Linked DNA regions of Homo sapiens. The protein of the gene in region 3 purifies or fractionates together with the protein of the main gene of each other region. This does not show direct contact. Each region holds a gene or a part of one and is shown on either strand. Other genes may lie near its edges.

The links.
Region 1: the proteins of BCAN (region 3) and ULK3 purify together in Homo sapiens (affinity purification with mass spectrometry; 2 studies listed by BioGRID and IntAct, with this or other methods). This does not show direct contact.
Region 2: the proteins of BCAN (region 3) and CTRL purify together in Homo sapiens (affinity purification with mass spectrometry; one large-scale study listed by BioGRID and IntAct). This does not show direct contact.
Region 4: the proteins of BCAN (region 3) and ZDBF2 purify together in Homo sapiens (affinity purification with mass spectrometry; one large-scale study listed by BioGRID and IntAct). This does not show direct contact.
Region 5: the proteins of BCAN (region 3) and SEMA3B purify together in Homo sapiens (affinity purification with mass spectrometry; one large-scale study listed by BioGRID and IntAct). This does not show direct contact.
Region 6: the proteins of BCAN (region 3) and GUSB purify together in Homo sapiens (affinity purification with mass spectrometry; one large-scale study listed by BioGRID and IntAct). This does not show direct contact.
Region 7: the proteins of BCAN (region 3) and FGFR1 purify together in Homo sapiens (affinity purification with mass spectrometry; one large-scale study listed by BioGRID and IntAct). This does not show direct contact.

The regions. Positions count from the first base shown.
Region 1 is NC_000015.10:74,835,618-74,837,887, reverse strand, and holds the end of ULK3 (serine/threonine-protein kinase ULK3), read left to right. Parts: intron 1-89; coding exon 90-137; intron 138-452; coding exon 453-519; exon of another isoform or gene 520-525; intron 526-643; coding exon 644-660; 3' UTR 661-1,770; downstream 1,771-2,270. UniProt on the Homo sapiens protein: Serine/threonine protein kinase that acts as a regulator of Sonic hedgehog (SHH) signaling and autophagy.
Region 2 is NC_000016.10:67,929,074-67,933,040, reverse strand, and holds CTRL (chymotrypsin-like protease CTRL-1 precursor), read left to right. Parts: upstream 1-1,178; 5' UTR 1,179-1,188; coding exon 1,189-1,240; intron 1,241-1,839; coding exon 1,840-1,943; intron 1,944-2,041; coding exon 2,042-2,121; intron 2,122-2,233; coding exon 2,234-2,315; intron 2,316-2,452; coding exon 2,453-2,633; intron 2,634-2,722; coding exon 2,723-2,856; intron 2,857-2,945; coding exon 2,946-3,107; 3' UTR 3,108-3,467; downstream 3,468-3,967.
Region 3 is NC_000001.11:156,648,617-156,652,116, forward strand, and holds part of BCAN (brevican core protein isoform 1 precursor), read left to right. Parts: coding exon 1-245; intron 246-2,839; coding exon 2,840-3,073; intron 3,074-3,500. UniProt on the Homo sapiens protein: May play a role in the terminally differentiating and the adult nervous system during postnatal development. Could stabilize interactions between hyaluronan (HA) and brain proteoglycans.
Region 4 is NC_000002.12:206,302,163-206,305,662, forward strand, and holds part of ZDBF2 (DBF4-type zinc finger-containing protein 2), read left to right. Parts: intron 1-2,554; coding exon 2,555-3,500.
Region 5 is NC_000003.12:50,275,097-50,278,046, forward strand, and holds the end of SEMA3B (semaphorin-3B isoform 1 precursor), read left to right. Parts: intron 1-205; coding exon 206-363; intron 364-463; coding exon 464-519; intron 520-608; coding exon 609-748; intron 749-1,205; coding exon 1,206-1,610; 3' UTR 1,611-2,450; downstream 2,451-2,950. UniProt on the Homo sapiens protein: Inhibits axonal extension by providing local signals to specify territories inaccessible for growing axons.
Region 6 is NC_000007.14:65,965,214-65,968,713, reverse strand, and holds part of GUSB (beta-glucuronidase isoform 1 precursor), read left to right. Parts: intron 1-806; coding exon 807-983; intron 984-3,500. UniProt on the Homo sapiens protein: Plays an important role in the degradation of dermatan and keratan sulfates.
Region 7 is NC_000008.11:38,427,136-38,430,635, forward strand, and holds part of FGFR1 (fibroblast growth factor receptor 1 isoform 1 precursor), read right to left. Parts: intron 2,814-3,500; coding exon 2,547-2,813; intron 1,301-2,546; coding exon 1,211-1,300; intron 959-1,210; coding exon 786-958; intron 1-785. UniProt on the Homo sapiens protein: Tyrosine-protein kinase that acts as a cell-surface receptor for fibroblast growth factors and plays an essential role in the regulation of embryonic development, cell proliferation, differentiation and migration.

The DNA.
Region 1 (2,270 bases), on a different chromosome or scaffold from region 3:
GAGAGCATCAGGGGTGAGGAGGAGTTCCCTTTGAAACCCCACCCCCCGCCACTCTCCCCCACACCCAAGGGCATATCTTTCCTTGGCAGGTTCAGAACCTCATGGCCCGAGCTGAATACTTGAAGGAGCAGGTCAAGGTGGGCACATGGGGGCCACGCTGGGGCTAGGGTCTGTGGGTTCTGTTGCTCTCTGCTTGTGGCTGTCGTCCCCCCCTGCTGGTGTATGTCTGCTCTCTCGCCTCCTCTGCAGGCCTCCCTGTCCCTGTATCTGCCCTTCACTCTCTCTCTTGCTCGGCACTGCGCTGTGGCTCGTGTCCCCGTCCTTCACTCTCTCACTTGCTCGGCACTGCGCTGTGGCTCGTGTCCCCGTCCTTCACTCTCTCACTTGCTCGGCACTGCGCTGTGGCTCGTGTGTCTGCCTCTCATCCCTTGTGCTGCCTTCACATCCCACAGATGAGGGAATCTCGCTGGGAAGCTGACACCCTGGACAAAGAGGGACTGTCGGAATCTGTTCGTAGCTGTGAGTCCTGCCCTGGGGTCGATCCTCCATCCAAGGAGGGGTGAGGGCTGGGGGCCCTGGGTTCTGCCTCCCTTACCAAAGACCTGAGACTGACCCTCCCCCATTGTCCCCCTCACCCCCGTAGCTTGCACCCTTCAGTGACCCTAGAAGAATGATTGGACAGATGTGAGCCATCTGGAGCAGAGGGGCACTAACCCAGGCTGACGCCAAGAATGAAGTGGCCCACTGCAGCCCTGGCGAGCAGGCTTCTTGGATGGACAGTGCTGAGACCCCCATATCCCAGAGTCCCCAGCCTCCCTCAGGTTACTCTGCACCCCACAGATGGTTTGATGGCTGTGCTGTATACTGGAGGGGAGGGCAGGACTCTGGGAGAACAGCACTTCTTTCATGAGACCTTTGTTACTCGGTGGTTACTGGGTCCTGTGCCTGTCCGTTTTGGGGCATGCAGCCCTCTATCATTTTTGGCTCCGAGAAGAGGGCAAGGGGCCCCCGCAGGGTACTTCTGTGCTTGCCCTCGCCCTGCCAGCAGGCAGCTGTGCCCCTGGCCTGCCCTTCCCGGGACCCCTTATTCCAACTCAGCTCCTCTTTGCACTGGAATGGGGCACTCCAACACCCCTCAGGGACCACCCTCCCCACAGTATGCACTCAGCCCCACAGAACCCACCAGTCTTTCTGGGAACTCACACCTGCCCGCCATCTTGGTACTTTAGGTTAATCCCTCAAGCATGAAAGCTGGATCTTTTGGGGTTTAAGAAGCCCAAGCCTTGTTCCTGCCCTGGCCTAGGGAGCACTCAGGAGGGTTCCTTGGTCCTCATCTCTCCCACCTCCGTTCCCTCTGGGCCCCACACTAGCCACAGCGCGGGCCTTGTGCTGGAGTTTGAGCCTGGGACAGGGAGAGGGAGGCTTGGAGACAGTCTGACCCAGTGCCCTCTAGGCCACCCACTTCTAGGCCTGCCCTGCCGCCGTGGAGCCCTGGGCAAGCTCTTTCCCCTTTCTGGGCCTGGGTCTCCCCATCTCTTCAATGGGGCTGATACCTTCACAGCCCACAGCATGGGCACTTATGAGGACAAAGTGAATTTAACCTGGAAAAGAATGTATTTGAGAGTTTCTTTTAAATAATCAGCGGGTGTTGGTGATTTGTAGCCCTTCTGCCCTTAAATGCTTCCTTGGGCAAGAGCTGTCTGTCCTCCCTGCAGGAGGCTGAGTGTAAAGAGTATCATTCATTGTTTCTCTATTAAATTATTTTCTCTATTTGCGCGTCTCTTCTTGCCTTAAGAACGACAGGAGAGGTGGCCGCTGCCCACAGGCTGGGGCAAGAAGGACTGCAGCAAAAGCTGCGGAAGCTGAGGTAGGGCCGGAGAGGTCGCGAGATGGAGGGGAATGCTGAGAATGATAGCCACATCTGCCCTCAGCCCCCAGAGATCCAGGAGAAGGGCTGACCAGGGTCATTGCTGCCCACACCCAGGCGACCGGTGGGGAGAGGAGCACAGGCCTGGGAGCTGGGAAGGCTCAGCTCCAGGAGTGCAATCTTCCACCATGCTCTGCCCTCCACACCGCACACTGTCTCACCCCAGACAGGATCTCTTGGCTTCCTTCCCTCCCTTACCCTGGGCCACTGAGGGAGCAGTGAGCTGGACTGGAGGAAAGGGCATGTTTTGAGGTATCATGCTCACACCCAGCCCCCAGGGTCTCCATTTCCAGCAGGCTCTGTACCCTGGCCTTCCCCCAACCCCACGTACACCCCAGGTGTC
Region 2 (3,967 bases), on a different chromosome or scaffold from region 3:
CCATCGCCCAGGCCGGAATGCAGTGGTGCACTCATGGCTCACTGCAGCCTTGAACTTAAGGGCTCAAGTGATCCCTCCTGCCTCAGCCTTCTGAGTTGCTGGGACTACAGGTGTGTACCATCATACCCAGCTCATTTCTTAATTTAAAAAAATTTTTTTTGTAGAGACAGGGTTTCATGATGTTGCTCAGGCTGGTCTCGAACTCCTGGAATCAAGCCTCCTACGTCTGCCTCCCAAAGTTTTGGGATTACAGGTGTGAGCCACCACACCCAGCCCTGATCTGTTCTTGAATCAGTTAAAGCCCTCACACTCCCAGAAGGCCGCCAGCCAATGCACCTGTTGGAACTTTGCACACAGGGTGTCTTCTCCCTTCAAGCTTGGTCTGCAGCTCAGTAACAAATGGGCTACAGACACCAGGGGCTTGCCCATGGGAGCCCCAAGGCCTAAAGAGGGTGGCAGAGATTTGATGTCTGTCACTCTCCACCTGCAGCCTCAGTCCACGGTCGGCCAGGCACCAAGAGCTCACACTTTGCCCTCCTAAATGCCAGGCCCTTCATAAGTATCATCTCATTGTTAAGAGCGGAGGCTTCAGCGCCAGACAAATGCGAGTTTGTGTACAACTCAACCACGTGCTGGTGGGAGAGTCACCATCTCTGAGCAGACCTGTGACTCCTGTTCCAAATGGACGAGGAACCACTGCGATGATGTGTTAGGACTCCCAGCCTGCCAGAACCTCACAGCCCCTGGCCCTTCACAGCAAAGTTGACCGCAGTGAGCATTCCATCCACCAGTCAGAACACCCTGGACGCTGAGCGGCCTTCTCTGAAAGCCTGGTGCCTTTGTTAGCCCTGGGTGACTCCTGTGATCCCAGCCACCAGGTTGTCACTATAGACCTAATTTAACCATCTGTCCTCAGTACCGAGGGCTCAACATTTGGAATGGGAGGTGGTTCTGGGAGCCAATTAGAGGCCAGGCTTTGGGAGGTGGCAGAGGTGAGTCTCACACCTGGGCTCTGTCTGATAAGTCTAGGTCTCGGTCAGGGGACCTTGGCCTAAAGGGCCTGTCTTGCCTGGAGCGTGGGAGGGGGCTGAGTCTACACAGCTGGCCTGGCCTCAGGCCTGGAGCTTTAGCTCAAGGACGAGAAGACCCATAAAGCCAGACCCAGCTCCCAACCTCACATCTGCCACGATGTTGCTGCTCAGCCTGACCCTAAGCCTGGTTCTCCTCGGCTCCTCCTGGGGTGAGTGGGCCAGGACCAGCCCTGATTCAGCCCTGGGAGCAACTCAGCTCCCAGCAACAGCCCAGGGAAGGAGCTAGGCTGGCTGGAAGGGACGAAGGTGGACAGAGTGGGCAAAAGAAACAGGATATGCCAGGGCAGTGGAGCAGGGAACAGGCCTGCAGGGCTGGGAGGGGGCAAGAGGTGGGGTGGTCTCACAAATAGGACCAGAGATTGAGCCAGGCCCTGGAGCCCGGGAGGGTTTAGGAAGCTGAGACAGGAAGACCTGTCCATGTCTTTTAGAAAGAACCTTCTGGCTGCATGAAGGGTATGAACTGTTCAGGTCGGGAGGGGGCAGAGAGACCAGGGGTAGAGATGGGGAACAGCGGGGACTAGGCTGGAGACAGATGTAGGAGAACAGCAGGGCTGGGGGACTGGGTGGATAGGGATAACCAAGATAGCTGTGGGGCCCGAAGGTGCTTGCATGTACCCTGTTGGGGAAGGGGTAGTGCTGTACCCTCTCGACAGACCTCTCTGGGGTGCACAGCCTGGGGCACCCAAAAGGAGGTGGGGAAAGATGGGCTGAGGCATGGGAAGCAGGTCCTCATTAGCCCAATGGCCAGGCTGCGGCATTCCTGCCATCAAACCGGCACTGAGCTTCAGCCAGAGGATTGTCAACGGGGAGAATGCAGTGTTGGGCTCCTGGCCCTGGCAGGTGTCCCTGCAGGTACACCACCAGAGGGGTGGGCAGGGTCCTGGGTACGTCATGCCTAGGGGCAGCCTCAGCAGCCCACCCCCACTCTGACCTCTGAGCCCTGACCACAGGACAGCAGCGGCTTCCACTTCTGCGGTGGTTCTCTCATCAGCCAGTCCTGGGTGGTCACTGCTGCCCACTGCAATGTCAGGTGAGTGCCTGCATTCCACCTGCCCCGCCCCTCGCCTCTTCCTGCCTCCTCCCCTGGCTGTCCCCCTCTCGCGCTGGCCTCCCTGCAGCTGCCTAATCCCACCCCCTTGCAGCCCTGGCCGCCATTTTGTTGTCCTGGGCGAGTATGACCGATCATCAAACGCAGAGCCCTTGCAGGTTCTGTCCGTCTCTCGGGTGAGTGCCTGGGCTGCAGACACGGAGGAAAAGTGGGCAGTGCAGGTGGGTGGGTGCTGGGAACGAGGAATTCAGGACATGCCCTGGCCTACCCTGCTCAGCACCCATCAGAACATGGACTGTTTCTGACCCCACAGGCCATTACACACCCTAGCTGGAACTCTACCACCATGAACAATGACGTGACGCTGCTGAAGCTCGCCTCGCCAGCCCAGTACACAACACGCATCTCGCCAGTTTGCCTGGCATCCTCAAACGAGGCTCTGACTGAAGGCCTCACGTGTGTCACCACCGGCTGGGGTCGCCTCAGTGGCGTGGGTAGGGACTCAGGCCAAAGCTCAGGGTGGGAGGACTGGGGTGGGGACCAGTGTTCTGGGCCCCATGTGACCACCCCTCCTGGCCCACAGGCAATGTGACACCAGCACATCTGCAGCAGGTGGCTTTGCCCCTGGTCACTGTGAATCAGTGCCGGCAGTACTGGGGCTCAAGTATCACTGACTCCATGATCTGTGCAGGTGGCGCAGGTGCCTCCTCGTGCCAGGTAAGCCCCAGCACCCGCTCCTCTGCGCTGTCCTGTGGTATACCTCCCCAACCCCCCCTACTCAATTCTCCCTCCCTCTTCCCTCTCAGGGTGACTCCGGAGGCCCTCTTGTCTGCCAGAAGGGAAACACATGGGTGCTTATTGGTATTGTCTCCTGGGGCACCAAAAACTGCAATGTGCGCGCACCTGCTGTGTATACTCGAGTTAGCAAGTTCAGCACCTGGATCAACCAGGTCATAGCCTACAACTGAGCTCACCACAGGCCCTCCCCAGCTCAACCCATTAAAGACCCAGGCCCTGTCCCATCATGCATTCATGTCTGTCTTCCTGGCTCAGGAGAAAGAAGAGGCTGTTGAGGGTCCGACTCCCTACTTGGACTTCTGGCACAGAAGGGGCTGAGTGACTCCTTGAGTAGCAGTGGCTCTTCCTAGAGTAGCCATGCCGAGGCCGGGGCCCCCACCCCTCCTCCAGGGCAACCCCTTGGTCCTACAGCAAGAAGCCAGAACTGTTGGAATGAATGGCAGCCCTCCCTGGAGAGGCAGCCTGTTTACTGAATACAGAGGATACGTTTACAAACTGAATACGCATAATAAATAACTGCACATTCTCCATCCACAGGCCATGGCATGAAGGCCCAAGTGGGTCTATCAAAGGCCCACATCTCCAAACCCCCTGTCCTGCCCTCAGGACCAGGCCCACCCTGGGCAAGAGAGAACGTAAGCCCCAGGGCTTCAGGTCCCCAGAGACACTTGGGGAACTGGGGGGAAATTCTGAGGCCATGGGGCTTGGTTCTCCACTGCCTCCTGCCCAGGGGGCATTGGGGACGGTAGGAGGATGTGTCTAAGGCATAGTCGACTTGGCACAGAGTGGTCTCTTTAGTTTTGTTTCCCACTGGAGGTGGCACATGCAGGAAAAGGGCCTGGCCCAGGCTGCCGACCGGCAGAAGCTGAGTGGGAACCAAACCCTCCTGCAATGGCAGGGGCCCTGCCGTCAAGCTAAGGCCAAAGCTGGGCCCTGGCCCCATTCTACCCACTGAAGGCAGCTGTGGAGGAAGGGGCTTGGGTTCCAGCCTGGTTTGTGGTAGGGGGAGATACCACAAAAGAAATGGGGA
Region 3 (3,500 bases):
ACGGGCGTACTGCCAGGAGCGGGGTGCAGAGATTGCCACCACGGGCCAACTGTATGCAGCCTGGGATGGTGGCCTGGACCACTGCAGCCCAGGGTGGCTAGCTGATGGCAGTGTGCGCTACCCCATCGTCACACCCAGCCAGCGCTGTGGTGGGGGCTTGCCTGGTGTCAAGACTCTCTTCCTCTTCCCCAACCAGACTGGCTTCCCCAATAAGCACAGCCGCTTCAACGTCTACTGCTTCCGAGGTGAGCCCACCTCCCTGCAGAAGCTGAGACCAATCTCAGAAAGGCAGAGTTGAGTCCTAAAAGTCCTACCCCAGTCTGATCAGTTTAGCTCAGGGCTTTGCCATTTGCCTGAAGTGGTCGTGGGTGAAGTCCAGCTTGTCATCTAGGGTTCTAATTCTGGGCATGCCCTCTGGTGTGGTGTCTGTCAGCTGTTTGGCCCAAGGAGTAGTCACCTTTTGGCCTCTCCTTATCTGCCTTCCCACCAGTAGTCCATGCCTTGTTTGCTCCAGCTGGGCTGCTGAATAAGCTCCCATCTCCTGTCAGCTTATTGGCAGAGCAAAGACGACCAACATTCTGTGAATTCAATGAGTAATCTGCCCAAGTTCTTCCAGTCAACAACCAAATGCCCTCAGGAGCCCTCTGGAGGATTTCCAGAAACTACAGCTTAAGAAGGTGTCAGATCTTTAACTACCAAATACTGGTGGATGGATACAATTCCCCCAAAAGGGAGCAAGACCTTAAGTACAGTTGGGAATAGAGATAGCTTTCTGCCCACATCTTATGGCTTGTTTCTTTTTTTGAGACAGGGTCTCACTCCGTCCCCCAGGCTGGAGTGCAGTGGTGTGATCATGGTTCATTGTAGCCTCAACCTCCCTGGGCTCAGGGGATCCTTCCACTTCAACCTCCGGAGTAGGTGGGACCACAGGCTTATGCCACCATGTCTAGCAAATTTTTGTAATTTTTGTAGAGATGGGGTTTCACCACATGCCCAGGCTGGTCTTGAACTCCTGAGCTCAAGCAATCTACCTATCTTGGACTCCCGAAGTGCTGGGATTTATAGGTGTGAGCCACTGCACCCAAACCTGCCCATATCTTATGTTGGGAGCTGGAGCGGGAGGCAGTTTCTGGGACTCTCAGATGCAAAAGGCCCAGGCCAAGGGTGACCGACAATAAGAGAGGCATTGCCATGCGGTGTCTCGGTCCTTCCCCAGTTTTAAGCCTGAAATACTGTTACAAGAGCTGGAAGCAGAAATGGAAGGAGCAGACACAGCCTTGAACCTCAGGGAGCACTTGGTCTGAAGGATGAAGACACAGCTTTTGCCATGGGAACCCCCAGCAAAGGGAAGACAAGATGCCTCACTCCCAGGATGAGGAGAGACTGAGAGAAAAGCATTACTTCCATTTGGACAGATCTGTGGACATATTTGGCTGGGGTTGGGGAGGGGTGGGGAAGTAAAAGTCCATAGGAAGACAGGTCCATCTGAAAAGACCTCCTGGAACAGGGGTAGTAGTAGTAGTAGTAGTAGTAGTAATAATAATAATAGTAATAGCTAAAACTTCTGTGTGCTGGCTATGATTGTGTGCCAAGCCAAGCACTGTTTTGGAAAGAAATGGCCTGGATCATGAGGAGGGGCAGGGGAGGGGGAATATGACTACAGTTGGGACTACGATTGGTGGAGGACACAGGCAGCAAGGACACAAGGTCTGGTGAGGAGTAAGGCTCACTGGAGCAGGTGATGAGGGCAGGGACTCACTGTCCTGTCTTGCCTGGCTGAGCACAGACAGCCCTCAGGACTTTTCTTAGCCCAATTCCACCTTCACTTCATTGGTTTTCTGCTCTTGGCTCCCTTCCCCAGAGGACAAGTAAACCATTCTAAACTTCTGGTTATTTGAAAGGAGTAGGTCCCAGAAGGAGGTGGCCTTTTCCCTTGCCTACTTGCCCCACCACTGAGATCCTCAGGTGATGCCTGAAGTTATTCCTGCACTCTGCCCTCCAGCTATCCTGAGGGGATGACAGCCTCTCCCCTTCTATTTCAAGAATTTTGGAGGCTCGGTGCAGTGGCTCATGCCTGTAATCCCAGCACTTTGGGAGGCCAAGACCACTTGAGGCCAGGAGTTCGAGATCAGCCTGGCAAACACGGGGAAACCCTGTCTCTACTAAAAATACAAAAATTAGCCAGTTACGGTGGCACATGCCTGTAGTCCCAGCTACTTGGGAGGCTGAGACGGGAGAACCGCTTGAATCCAGGAGGCGAAGGTTGCAATGAGCTGGGATCGTGCCACTGCACTCCAGCCTGGGTGACAGAAGGAGACTCTGTCTAAAAAATAAAAGAATTTGGGGATACCTGGGACACCTCACACCTTGCCCCAAGCCCAAGATCACAAGGTGGTAAAGCTATTTCATCCATCCTGCTGGCTCCAGCCCCTCCCCCTAGGGAATATCTCTCACCTGAGCCTTTCCTGACCACTCCAAAGTAGTATTTTCCATCACTCCATCTTCTAACTCTGCTCAAGTGTTCTTTATCTTGTAAGATTATAATATATGTTTGTTTGTCATCTGTTCTAGAATATAATTTCCCTTGAGGGTAGGAGGTTTGCTATTTTGTTCTGCACTGTATCCTCAGTGCCCAGGGGAATGCTTGGCATGACACACTGTAGGCACTTGATGAATGCTTGAGAAATGAGTGACGAAGTTCTGGGATGCTCCCTGGGCCCCAGTAGGTGCTCCACAGGGAAGATGTGAGAGAATTGAGAGAATTCCATGGTGCAAGCTGTGACCTGGGAGGGCAGAGCTACCTATTCAGGCTCGCATCAATACTTTCCTCCTGCCACAGACTCGGCCCAGCCTTCTGCCATCCCTGAGGCCTCCAACCCAGCCTCCAACCCAGCCTCTGATGGACTAGAGGCTATCGTCACAGTGACAGAGACCCTGGAGGAACTGCAGCTGCCTCAGGAAGCCACAGAGAGTGAATCCCGTGGGGCCATCTACTCCATCCCCATCATGGAGGACGGAGGAGGTGGAAGCTCCACTCCAGAAGACCCAGCAGAGGCCCCTAGGACGCTCCTAGGTAAGTCGGATCCCTTATCCTAAGGATGTCTTGATTGAAAGAAGTTGGGGGCAGAAGAGGCAAGCCCAGGTTGATGCTAGGGTGATGGATGACATGACTCTGCCCTGTCCTTTCTCAGTAGCTCAGGGGTGCAGGGCACCTTTCCTGTCCCTCTCCCAACCTTTGCTTTTCCAGTAAATTCCACCCCCAACTCTATGGAGCTAGAGATGCTTGCACTAAGGAGCTGCGCCCTGGAAAGGTGGAACCTGCCTTCTTTGGTCCCTCTTCCGCCTCACACACCCAAAACAGACTAGAGTTTTGACAGAGTAGGAGGGAGACAAATGACCATGTTCTCCGGGGCTAATGATGGCTCACAGAGCCTTCTCAAGTGTTGCCTCAACAATATGGCTGGGGTCAAGTTCTTCCAGTGTGGCGCAAGGACCACCTG
Region 4 (3,500 bases), on a different chromosome or scaffold from region 3:
CATGCCTGGCTTATTTTTTAAATTTTTTGTAGAAACAGGATCTCATTATGTTGCCAAGGCTGGTCTCAAACTCTTGGCCTCAAGTGATCCTCTCACTTGAGTCTTCCAAAGTGGGGGGATTACAGGCATGAACCACCACACCTGGCCAAAAGAGTGGTTTTTAATCTTTAATGGTTAGATTTTTAGAGAGCTTTTTTTGTTGTTGTGTGGTTACAAATGATGAGTTAAATGTGGATTATGATTTAATTGTTAAGCATATTATACACACACAAATACAGATGCAGATCAAAGCATCCAGATGGCAGTTCATGACCTTCTTGGGATTTTACCAGCTGTATGATTTTATGATTATACCTTCTTTTCTTTTTTCCCTTTTCTTTCTTTTCTTAGCTACATATTGCACAATTGGTTTTATTTTGAGAATGTTGTGATAGTCCTTAAGACAAATGAAGATAGTTTAGGGTTCTGAAAAACTAGAGTGAAGTGATTGTTGCACTGCAGTGTCATTGTTGAGAAGTATGAAAAATTAGAATTGTTTTTTGCTGCATCACAATACTTTTGATGCAGGGTTAACTTTATTTTCTAAATTCAAAATTAATATTAAGGTAATAAATTTATATGGGATAGTAATACTTAGGCTAAAATGAAATTGCATATGGCTGACACATGTATGCATGTTCTCTTAGACAAATGACATCTCAAATTGGAAAAATTCAATAAATTTTTAGGTGTTTATTTTTAATTGTTATAGGCTATTTTTATAAACAAACAGTTTTAGATTAATGGAAACAATGAGGAAATAGTACAGAGTGTGCCTATAATACTCTCTCACACAATTTCTCTATTATTAACATTAATGTGATATATTTGTTATAAGTAATGAACTGATATTAGTACAGTCCATGGTTTATTCAGACTTCTTAGTTTCTACTTAAACTAAGTTTTCTTAAACTAAGATTTCCTTAGTTTTACTACTTTTTCTGTTTCAGAATCACATCCAGGATACCACATTACATTAACTTGTAATGTCTCTTTAGGTCCCTCTTGGCTGTGACAGTTTAATCTTTTTTTTTTTTTTTTTAAACAGGTCTAGATGTGATGATACTTATCTCTTTGAATTGTTATTATTTTTTATGTGTCTGCCTTCTGCAGCTACTTGAATGGTCTTTAAAAGGCAGCTTAACTTTTTTTGAATTTGCCTTAGTACCTAGCATAGTGCCTGTAATGCAGTAGTAAGTCCTTAGTAGATGGTTGTTACATGAATGAATGTTTGCCCGACTTTAAGAATTCAGGCCATGGCAATATCATTAGGTCAGTTGGTTTTATGTACATGAAAGAACAGTCCCTGAAATGCTTTGGTCAAACATGTTGTCTTGATACTGGTAGAAGAGATTCATAGACTGATTTTAGATATGAAAGTTTTGGGTCTTTTTAAAAATAATGGAATTTAAATTTTGAATGGGAAATACATATACATAGACATAATTCACAGTGCACGTTCAAAAGTAAGTCTTCTTAAATTGCTGCCATCCTGTAGTCACTTCCCTAGAGGTAACACTTGACACCTCTAGACTTCTACAGTTGTATGTGCCATTCTCCAGATATTCTAAGTGCATTATTTTTTTCCCTTCTATTTTACATAAATGGTAGCTTTCTGTGTACCCTTGCTTTTCACTAACAATGTTTATAGTAATTGGTTTTTATTTGTATATATAGAGCCGCTTTATTATTTTTAAAAACCACATTGTATTCCATTAAATACCATTAATTATTTAACCAGTACCCAGTTACTGAGTATTCAGGTTGATTCTAGTCATTTGCTATTACCCCTCCCTCCGCTCAAAAGTAGCAGTAACTATTCTTGTACGTGTTCATTAAACACATGAGAAAACCAAAAGTGGAATTAGAGGTCAAAGGGTATGTACATTCTTAATTTTAATAGACATTGCCAAATTGCTGTTTGTAGAGGTTACAAATCTACATAGAGGTTAACCAGTAACTGTTAACTGATCTATATTCCTATGAACAATGTATTAAAGTGCCTTTGTCCTTACACCCGCACCAAAACAATGTGTTAAGATAATAATAGCTAACATTTGTGAATGCTTACTGTGTGCCAAGCTGTTTCTTTGTTTTAATGCTCTTTACATGTAACAATTAATTTACTCATCAAAACAATCTCATGAGGGAAAATAGTGTAAGATTCCCTTTTTTTGGAGGCAGAAACTGAAGCATACAAAGTTAAGTAACATATGTCAAACTTTTTGCTATTTACTACTCTGATAACTGAAAAATAATATATGATTTTATTTGTTTAGTTTTTCATGTTTAGGGGCCATTTGTATTTAAGTAGCAATTGGTGGAGCCACCTCCACCTTCTGCAGTAATTCCCCCTCTGTGGTCCATGCAGTGTTCAGCCTGGGGTGACTGCCTGGATTCCTTGTCCTTTAAGGATAGTCCAGAACAGAAAGCAAATAACATTTATTATGCCTCTATTTTAATATTTTAAACAGACATTAGAATATGTTTATGAGTTTCCCCCCTTTCGTTTTAGTTCAACACAAGATGAGACACATGTGAATACTGGGTCATCGTCTGAAGTGGTGCATTTGGATGATGCTTTTTCTGAAGAAGAGGAAGAGGATGAGGATAAGGTTGAGGATGAGGATGCTACCGAAGAGAGACCATCCGAGGTTTCAGAACCTATTGAAGAGTTACATTCCAGACCTCATAAATCTCAGGAAGGCACGCAGGAGGTTTCAGTTCGACCATCAGTTATTCAAAAACTGGAGAAGGGACAGCAGCAGCCCTTGGAGTTTGTTCATAAAATTGGGGCCAGTGTGAGAAAATGTAACCTAGTAGATATTGGTCAGGCTACAAATAATAGAAGCAACTTGGTACGCCCCCCAGTGATTTGTAATGCTCCTGCTAGTTGTTTACCTGAAAGCTCTAACGATAGACCAGTTACAGCTAATACAACTAGTTTACCACCAGCAGCTCATTTGGATTCAGTTAGCAAATGTGACCCAAACAAAGTTGAGAAATATCTTGAACAGCCAGATGGGGCCTCTAGAAATCCTGTGCCATCATCCCATGTAGAAACTACTTCATTTTCGTATCAGAAACATAAAGAATCAAATAGGAAATCTTTACGCATGAATTCAGATAAGTTGGTTTTGTGGAAAGATGTAAAATCTCAGGGTAAAACTTTATCAGCTGGCTTGAAATTCCATGAACGCATGGGTACTAAGGGCTCCTTAAGAGTTAAATCTCCTTCCAAATTAGCAGTAAACCCGAATAAAACTGACATGCCTTCTAATAAAGGAATCTTTGAAGATACTATTGCAAAGAACCATGAGGAATTCTTTTCTAACATGGATTGTACCCAAGAAGAAAAGCATTTGGTTTTTAACAAGACAGCCTTTTGGGAACAGAAGTGCTCAGTGAGTTCTGAAATGAAGTTTGATTGTATCTCTCTTCAGTCAGCATCTGATCAGCCC
Region 5 (2,950 bases), on a different chromosome or scaffold from region 3:
GTGCCTGGCGCGTCCCAAGCCTCTGGCCCCTTTTGGTAGTTTGCAGTCCCGGGTTTGAGTACAGGCTCTGGCTTTGTTAGACTGTGTGACCTGAGGCGTAAGACCTCAGTGTTCCCATCTGTCGAGTGGAAGAAGGGATCCCTGACCGATGGGAGGCAGGCGTGGGGTCGCCCTCGGTCAGCCCAGAGCCCCTCGTGCCCCCTAGCACCAGCTGTACGTAGCCTCGCGGAGCGCGGTGGCCCAGATCGCGTTGCACCGCTGCGCTGCCCACGGCCGCGTCTGCACCGAATGCTGTCTGGCGCGTGACCCCTACTGCGCCTGGGACGGGGTCGCGTGCACGCGCTTCCAGCCCAGTGCCAAGAGGTGGGCGGGGTCGGGGTTGGGCCGCCGGGAGGGAGGCGAAGGGTCTTTCACTGCCCGGGGCTGAAAGAAGGGCTCACAGAAGATCGGATGTTCCCCACAGGCGGTTCCGGCGGCAAGACGTAAGGAATGGCGACCCCAGCACGTTGTGCTCCGGAGGTGAGTGCCCCAGCTGCCCCTACCCTCAGCCCCAGAAGACGCCCCACCTGCCCTGCCTTGCCTAAATCTGACTTTCTTCTCGCCCCAAGACTCGTCTCGTCCCGCGCTGCTGGAACACAAGGTGTTCGGCGTGGAGGGCAGCAGCGCCTTTCTGGAGTGTGAGCCCCGCTCGCTGCAGGCGCGCGTGGAGTGGACTTTCCAGCGCGCAGGGGTGACAGCCCACACCCAGGTGAGCCTTACTCCGCCCTCCCCGCCAGGCTCCTGTCCCACCCCCTGCATCCAGGAGAGGCCCCGCCCTACCCAACGAAGCCCCGTCCAACCAGACCCACTCCCCGCCCTGTCCAGTTTGGTCCCTCACCTGCACTCCACAAGCTGCTGAGGCCCCATTGCGTCCAACGGGGCTCCCGACCCGCCTCCCCTGAATCAAGGAGAAGACCCGCCCTCGACCCTCCCATTAAGGTCCCTGACCACCCCCCACCAAGTTCATGTAAACCCCGCCTCTTTCGGATTCTCCCTTGAAGACCACCAGCTCCCAAACACTCAGCCTTAAAATGTGCGCCTGCGGGCACCCCTTTCCCGCTCCACCTCGGCTCCCAATGACTCTTTGCTTCTTCCGTCGCGTGCTAGGGCCCGGAAGCCCTGTTCCCGGCCCGACACCCCCGCCTCACGCTGCCCTCTGCCCGCAGGTGCTGGCAGAGGAGCGCACCGAGCGCACCGCCCGGGGACTACTGCTGCGCAGGCTGCGGCGCCGGGACTCGGGCGTGTACTTGTGCGCCGCCGTCGAGCAGGGCTTTACGCAACCGCTGCGTCGCCTGTCGCTGCACGTGTTGAGTGCTACGCAGGCCGAACGACTGGCGCGGGCCGAGGAGGCTGCGCCCGCCGCGCCGCCGGGCCCCAAACTCTGGTACCGGGACTTTCTGCAGCTGGTGGAGCCGGGCGGAGGTGGCAGCGCGAACTCCCTGCGCATGTGCCGCCCGCAGCCTGCGCTGCAGTCACTGCCCCTGGAGTCGCGGAGAAAGGGCCGTAACCGGAGGACCCACGCCCCTGAGCCTCGCGCTGAGCGGGGGCCGCGCAGCGCAACGCACTGGTGACCAGACTGTCCCCACGCCGGGAACCAAGCAGGAGACGACAGGCGAGAGAGGAGCCAGACAGACCCTGAAAAGAAGGACGGGTTGGGGCCGGGCACATTGGGGGTCACCGGCCGATGGAGACACCAACCGACAGGCCCTGGCTGAGGGCAGCTGCGCGGGCTTATTTATTAACAGGATAACCCTTGAATGTAGCAGCCCCGGGAGGGCGGCACAGGTCGGGCGCAGGATTCAGCCGGAGGGAAGGGACGGGGAAGCCGAGCTCCAGAGCAACGACCAGGGCCGAGGAGGTGCCTGGAGTGCCCACCCTGGGAGACAGACCCCACCTCCTTGGGTAGTGAGCAGTGAGCAGAAAGCTGTGAACAGGCTGGGCTGCTGGAGGTGGGGCGAGGCAGGCCGACTGTACTAAAGTAACGCAATAAACGCATTATCAGCCAAAGCTGGAATGGCCCCAGCAGAAAACCCCAGTCCTCGGCCTTGCTATGTGGTCTTGGGCACCTTACTAGCGGTGTCAGGGCCCGAGTTTCTCCTGTCCAAGGTTGCCTGGTGAGGATTAAAGGTGGTTCCGGCCAGGCGCGGTGGCTCACGCCTGTAATCCCAACACTTTCGGAGGCCCAGGCGGACGGATCACGAGGTCAGGAGATGGAAACCATCCCGGCTAACACGGTGAAACCCCGTCTGTACTAAAAATACAAAAAATTAGTCGGGCGTGGTGGCGGGCGCCTGTAATCCTAGCTACTCAGGAGGCTGAGGCAGGAGAATTGCTTGAACCTGGGAGGTGGAGGTTGCAATGAGCCTAGATCTCGCCGCTGCACTCCAGCCTGGGCGACAGAGCGAGACTCCAAAAAAAAAAAAAAAAAAAAAAAAAAAGGTGGTTCCGCGTGACTGAACAGGTTCTGTAGGGCCTTTGGGAATAGTGACACGCAGGGTACATTGTGCATAATATAACTTCAGGACTAAGTGCTAGGAAGAAAATAAAACTGGACCGGGCGCAGTGGCTCACGCCTGTAATCCCAGCATTTTGGGAGGCCGAAGCAGTCGGATCATGAAGTCAGGAGTTCAAGACCAGCCTGACCAACATGGTGAAACCCTGTCTCTACTAAAAATACAAAACTTAGGTGGGTGTGATGGCACGCGCCTTTAATCCCAGCTACTCAGGAGGCTGAGGTAAGATAATTGCTTGAACCAGGGAGGCAGAGGTTGCAGTGAGCCGAGATCGCCCCACTGCACTCCAGCCTGGGCAACAGAGCGAGACTCTGTCTCAAAGAAAAGAAAACTGGGTGATGTGGAAAAGAATGTACACAGAAGGCCTCACTGAAGGGGTGGCATTTGAGTTCGCTGAC
Region 6 (3,500 bases), on a different chromosome or scaffold from region 3:
TCGGGAGACTGAGGCATGAGAAGCACCTGATGGTGGGAGGCAGAGGTTGCAGTGAGCTGAGATCGCACCACTAACATTCTAGCCTGGGCGACAGAGCGAGACTCTGTCTCCAAAACAAAACAAAAGATTTTCTGTGAGAATGACTGCATCGGCCCCTCGGGTGGCAGCGCTTCTCCAGGGCAAGGTGAGGGGAAGCCCAGTGATGGGAGTGCTGCCTGGAGAGGAGTCAGTTCCAGTGGTGGGGGCCCTGGGCTTTGGCTGAGGGCTGTGCGTTGGCAGCTGCTGTGCCTCTCACAGCCCTTCCCAGCGGCGCACGTCATGAGTGTCAGTGTGGAGTCCCAGGCCTACCTCCTCTGGGCCACTTTGTGACCATGTTTCTTGCCTATGGCAGGGTAATTTCAGGATCTAAATTGGTACACTTGGACGTTCTCAGCCCCAGGAGGCAGCTGTTCCCGTTCTAGGTTTTTTTTTTTTTTTTTTTTTGGTAGAAATGGGGGCTTGTGATGTTGCCCAGGCTGGTCTCGAACTCCTGGGATCAAGTGATCCTCCCATCTTGGCCTCCCAATGTGCTGGGATTACAGGCATGAGCCACCGTGCCCTGCTAATTTTCTTACTACTATTTTTTGTAATGCTGCAGTCTTGCTGTGTTGCCCAGGCTGGTCTTAAGCCATCCTCCTGCCTCAGCCTCCCAGAGTGCTGGGATTACATCCCCCTTACCTTCTCTGCCAGAGGAGCCCCCGCAGTGTGTGAATGCTGAGTCATGCTGTCTACTGAGTGCTGAACGGGCTCTGCTGCTCTGGTCCTAGGCTCCGTATGTGGATGTGATCTGTTTGAACAGCTACTACTCTTGGTATCACGACTACGGGCACCTGGAGTTGATTCAGCTGCAGCTGGCCACCCAGTTTGAGAACTGGTATAAGAAGTATCAGAAGCCCATTATTCAGAGCGAGTATGGAGCAGAAACGATTGCAGGGTTTCACCAGGTAAGCAGTGTTGAGCTTTCTGCTTGTGTGTTCTCTCAGGGCAGAGATGTCACTCACCTCCTCCAGCCTGACCTGCGCCCACTGCACTGCTCCCCTCGCTTCAGCTTTGGGCTCTCCTCCCACGGCCCCGTCCACGTTCCCTCACCGCCAACAGCCAGGCCTGTGCCCCACTCACTTGGTCCTCAGAGGTGGCCTCCTTACTGGCTTTGTTTCCAGATAGCCTCCTATCACCCGTGCCCAAGTGGTCTTTCTAACAGATCCAAATTTGTATTTGTTTTTGAGACCGGATCTCTCTGTCACCCAGGCTGGAGTGTGGTGGTGCGATCACTGCTCACTGCAGCCTTAACCTCCTGGGCTCAAGTGATCCTCCCACCTCAGCCTCCTGAGTAGCTGGGACCATAGGCACATGCCAACACGCCTGGCTAATTTTTTTACTTTTGTAGAGATGGGGTCTTGCCATGTTGCCCAGACTGGTCTTGAACTCCTGGCCTCAAGTGATCTGCCTCAGGCTCCCAAAGTGCTGGGATTACAGGTGTGAGCCTCTGCACCAGCCACAGTTGAAAATTTTGGGAGTCCTGTCATTGGCTCCCCCAGGCCCACAGGACAAAGCCCTAACCTCTGGTCAGGACACTCAGTGTCCTCTGCTCTCTCCTGGGTTTTCATCCCCTTCTCCCCTCTATCCCAGCCACTGATCTGTTTCCACTGCCCTCGCTTGCTCTCCTGCTCTTGCTTGAGCTGTTTCTTCTGCCTGGAATGCCCATGTTGGCACCATAATCACCAACTAAAATATCCTTTTTCTTAATTTTCATATTTTAGATATAGGGTCTTGCTATGTTGTCCAGGCTGGTCTCAAACTCCTGGACTCAATTGATCTTCCTGCCTTGGCCTCCAAAAGTGCTGGAATTACAGGCATGATCCACTGTGCTAGCCTTTTTTTCTTTTTCTTTTTTTCAGGGTCTTGTTGTGTTGCCCAGGCTGGAGTGCAGTGGTGTCATCATAGCTCACTGCAGCCTTGAACTAAAGGGCTGAAGTAATTCTTCCACCTCAGCCTCCTGAGTAGCTGGGACGACAGGCATGAACCACCATGTGCAGCCTATTTTTAAATTTTTTTGTAAAGATGGAGTCTATCAGGCTGGTCTAGAACTCCTGGCCTTACGTGATTGTCCTGCCTCAGACTCCCAAAGTGCTGGGAATCCAGGCATGAGACACCATGCCCAGCCTGTCGTCATTTTTTTAATCTATCTCATTTTTTTGTCCTCCTCACCAAAGATATGTTGGTTTGTCTTGTGAGGTTTTTTTTTTCCTGTGGATTCCTGAACCCCATCCAGCCCCTCATTCCCACCCCAGCCAGCTCACACTTGTTTGTCACAGCTCCTGGTTGACACACAGGGAACAGCCACCCACAGTGGACTGCGCTGTTCTGTTTGCACCCTTAAATTTATCGTGCTTACAGAATGCCACTTCTGCAAACTAGTCAAGTAGGGGAAGTGGCTCTTGGATATATTTGCTTGCGCATCCTCTTTGAAAAGGTAACCAGCTCTGAATTCTTTTTTTTTTTTTGACACAGAGTTTCGCTCTCGTTGCCTAGGCTGGAGTGCAGTGGCGCGATCTCGGCTCACTGCAATGTCCACCTCCCTGGTTCAAGCGATTCTCATGCCTCAGCCTCCCGAGTAGCTGGGATTACAGGCATGCGCCACCACGCCCACCTCATTTTGTATTTTTAGTAGAGATGAGGTTTCACCATGTTGGTCAGGCTGGTCTTGAACTCCTGACCTCAAGTGATCCGCCCGCCTTGGCCTCCCAAAGTGCTGGGATTACAGGCATGAGCCACCGTGCCAAGCCCTAGCTCTGAATTCTTAAGAAACTCTTGAGAGGGTCTAGGTCAGTGCTGATAGAACCTCTGCAGTGCTGGGCATGGTGGCTCACACCTGGAATGCTGGCACTTTGGGAGGCCAAGGTCAGAGGATCTCTTGAGCCCAGGAGTTTGAGACCAGTCTGTGCAACATAGACCCCATCTCTACAAAAAATTTAAAATTAGTTGGGCATGGTTATGAGTGCTTGTAGTCCAAGCCACTTGGGAGGCTGAGGTGGGAGGATTGTTTGAGCCCAGTAGGTCAAGGCTGCATTCAGCTATGATTGCACCACTGTACTCCCACCTGGGTGACAGAGTGAGACCTTGTTTCAAAAAATAAAAAAAAACAAACTTGCAATGATGGAAATGTTCTATATTTGCACTGTCTGAAATGGTACACACTAGCTACACATGGCTACTGAGGTCTTGATATATGACTAGGATAACTGAATTGATTTAGTTTAATTAAATAAATTTTTTTGAGACAGCCTCACTCTGTTGCCCAGGCTGGAGTGCAGTGGCATAATCACAGCTCACTGCTCAACCTCCTGGGCTCAAGCGATCCTCCCTCCTTAGCCCCAAGTAGCTTGAACTGCAGGCGTGCGCCACCACACCTGGCTAATATTTTGACTTTTTGTAGAGACTGGGTCTCACTGTGTTGCCTA
Region 7 (3,500 bases), on a different chromosome or scaffold from region 3:
AAGTTAGTAATTTCACTTGTAACAATCTGTCCTAAGGAAGCACGCTTAAAAAAATGCTGACAGAGATTCACTGCAACATTATTTATTATGGTGAAAAACCAGAAAATACCTAATATCACAAAATAGTTCATTAAATTATAGGACTTTTTCTGTTGTTTTTTGGAGACAGAGTCTCACTCTGTCACCCAGGCTAGAGTGAAATGACGTGATCTCAGCTCACTGCAACCTCTGTCTCCTGGGTTCAAGCAATCTCCTGCTTCAGCCTCCCCAGTAGCTGGGATTACAGGAGCCTGCCACCACACATGGCTAATTTTTTGTATTTTTAGTACAGAGGAGGTTTCGCCATGTTGCCCAGGCTGGTCTCGAACTCCTGAGCTCAGGCAATCCGCCCACCTCGGCCTCCCAAAGTGATAGGATTTTAGGCGTGAGCCACCATGCCCAGCCAAATTATGGGATTTTAAAATAATGGAATCTTATACAGTCATGAAAAATTATGTTTCAAATATTCATGCTTGAAATATATCAGGAAAAGACTCATGTTAACAAATGACAAGGCAAGGAAATTACATACATGATGTGATCAACTATGTAAAAACCATATTACAGAAAGAAGACTGAAGAAATGTTTAAACTTTATTTGCATTTTTTTGTATTTAAAAATTTTAATGAATAACCTGTATAGGTGGAAAGTATTACTTAAAAAAATGAAAAGCATGTAATCAGGACTTCCTAACTCGGCCTCCCCTGTTCCCATTACTCTAACTTTCGCATGCACACACACGTACCTTGTAGCCTCCAATTCTGTGGTCAGGTTTGAATTCTTTGCCATTTTTCAACCAGCGCAGTGTGGGGTTTGGGGTCCCACTGGAAGGGCATTTGAACTTCACTGTCTTGGCAGCCGGCACTGCATGCAATTTCTTTTCCATCTTTTCTGGGGATGTCCAATATGGAGCTACGGCTGCCCGGGGAAAGCCAAGAGAGACAGGCAGGGTGGAGAGGAGCAGCTGGTCAGGCTCAGGAGCAGGGCCCAGGCCAGGACCTGGAGGTGTCTTGCCCATCTGCCCAACACCTGTGAGCAGTGCCTGGCACTTAGCAGAACAGGCACCGTGACCCCATGTGCCCTCCTCTTCCTCCCCTTTCAGCCTTCCCCTCCCCTCTTAAACCCAATGCCCAGACCCAAAGGGCAGTAAGATAGGAAACAGTGTCTCACGCATACGGTTTGGTTTGGTGTTATCTGTTTCTTTCTCCTCTGAAGAGGAGTCATCATCATCATCATCATCCTCCGAGGAGGGGAGAGCATCTATGGGAAGAAGAAGGGGCACTGAGGTTCCTCCTAGGGACCCCTAGATTTCACCAAGGCTAGTGCAGTTCCAGATGAACACGGACACCCTCCCCATGGGGATCCCAGTCCCACTGCTCCCTTAGTGATGATCTCTTGGTGGGATGGAAACTGTTTAAGAACAGTTCCTGTGCGTGTTTGCTTCCTTCCCCGAAGCACTGCCCCCACTGCCTGGAAGCCTTCACACTGGGTGGTTCCATCAGGGTCAGCTGTTCCTATTTAACTTAATTCCGTCCTACATTCAAAGGCGCTTTCTCAACTTGTGGTGCCACCTGGGTGTGCTGGAGCCAGGCAACCTGTATTCTTCTTTGGACGGCTGACTATAGGGAAACCCAGGCAGGTCTAGACACACTGTGGCTAGATGCTATTTCCAAAGGATGGGCTAAACACCCCACAGTCAGAATTTTTCTAGCATGTGTCTACTAAGGTTTGGGGGCTGCCCTCCTTAATCAGAGCAGATAGGGCACCCACCACCCCAGCAGCTGCCAACACCTCTCCCCAATAAGTATTTATTTCTTGTAAGAACACGCTTGATACACATGTGGTCACCCATCAGGGTTCATGCCAGATCTTTCTCCAGTCCTTCCTATCACCTTTGGGGATCTGCTGCCAAGTCCACACCCTGAGGTGCATAAATGGCATAAAGAAAATTTCAGCTCCACTTCCTCAACTCCTAGTTTTGTGAAAGTCACATTCTAAGAGTGGCAAGTTCCCAAGTTCACAGAGCTCCAGGGCTCCCTGGCTGCCCTCGCACAGCTCCCTTGCGGTGCACCTGGGTTCCTCTCCAGCAGAGCAGGGATACCACCACCTGTTCAGGGCCTCTAATCACTAAGCCGAGTACCAAGTCCAAATGGCAAGGGAGTGATGGAGTGGAAGCTGGCCGAGCACCACTTAGCCTCCTGGAGATCTGGGCAAGCTGTGGTGGAAAAAAATCACAGGGTCTTAACATCCCAAGAGCCCTGGCAATCACCTCCGAGGTGTGTCCTGGAAGCCCCAGATCTCCGGCCCTGGGGCCCACCCCACCTAGTCACCTCTCTGAGAGCCAAGCCACGCGGCAGGCAGGGAGCAATGTTAGTGGGCAGCAGTTTCTGAAGCAGAGTGGGGGCAGATCACGGAGGGGGAGGAGGTTCACCTTCCTCTGAAACTGGCAGAGAGGGCTGGAGGGGGTGGGTCTAGGGAGGGGCAAGGGCAGGGCTTGGCTACCAACCTGAAACATTGACGGAGAAGTAGGTGGTGTCACTGCCCGAGGGGCTGCTGGTTACGCAAGCATAGAGGCCGGAGTCTGCGGGCACGGAGTCCTGCACCTCCACCTCCTCCCCTGTGATGCGGGTGCGGTTGCTTTCCGCCAGCTGCACCCCGTCCCGCAGCCAGTTGATGCTCTGCACATCGTCCCGCAGCCGACAGCGAAGCTGCAGCAGGTCACCGGGGTGGACCAGGAAGGACTCCACTTCCACAGGGGCTCCCCAGGGCTGGGCTGCAGCCACCACGGGGCCGGGAAGGGAAGCCAAGGGGCGAGAGAGGAAGACAGGGAGAGGGGAGGAGGGGAGAGACAAAGGGAATTACGCTGGCCACACGGAGCCGCACCATCCTGGGCATCACTTACTGGAGGCTACTGAGCCAGGGCAGTGGGAATTGGAGCATGGGTCAGTGGGGAAAACAGCTGGCTGCCTGGGAACCCCCATCTCTTTTCCACCCCACTCCTCCAAAAGTCAAAGGAAGAAAGAGGCAAAGTTAGGAAGCAGCTGTAGCAGCATTAAGCGCATTTCATTTCCCCCATCCTAAGGGGAAAGGTCGGCCCTCCCCAGGACTTCTTTGTGTCCGGAGTTGCCCCCTCCCCAGATGCTCAGTTCTTTGCCAAGATTGCCACTTGCCAGAGGAACACCCCATTTCCTTTGGGATAGCTCAGCCTCACCCTTCCCTAGCAACAGCTGAACAAACCCCGCCCCTCAAAACCCCAGCAGCCCCTGCCCAAGTCGAGAGAAGGCAATTTGTCAACTGGGGGCTGACCAGGATGCGTGTGATTCGGAGAGGGTGGGGGTCTGGCCCTCGACGCGTCAGATGCACATGCTGGGGGGGCAGCCCAAGGAGAGGTCAGCTCAGGGAACCTCTCGCTAACAGGTGTCAGGGCAGGGGATTTGGAGCTGTTGACTATATTAGGACG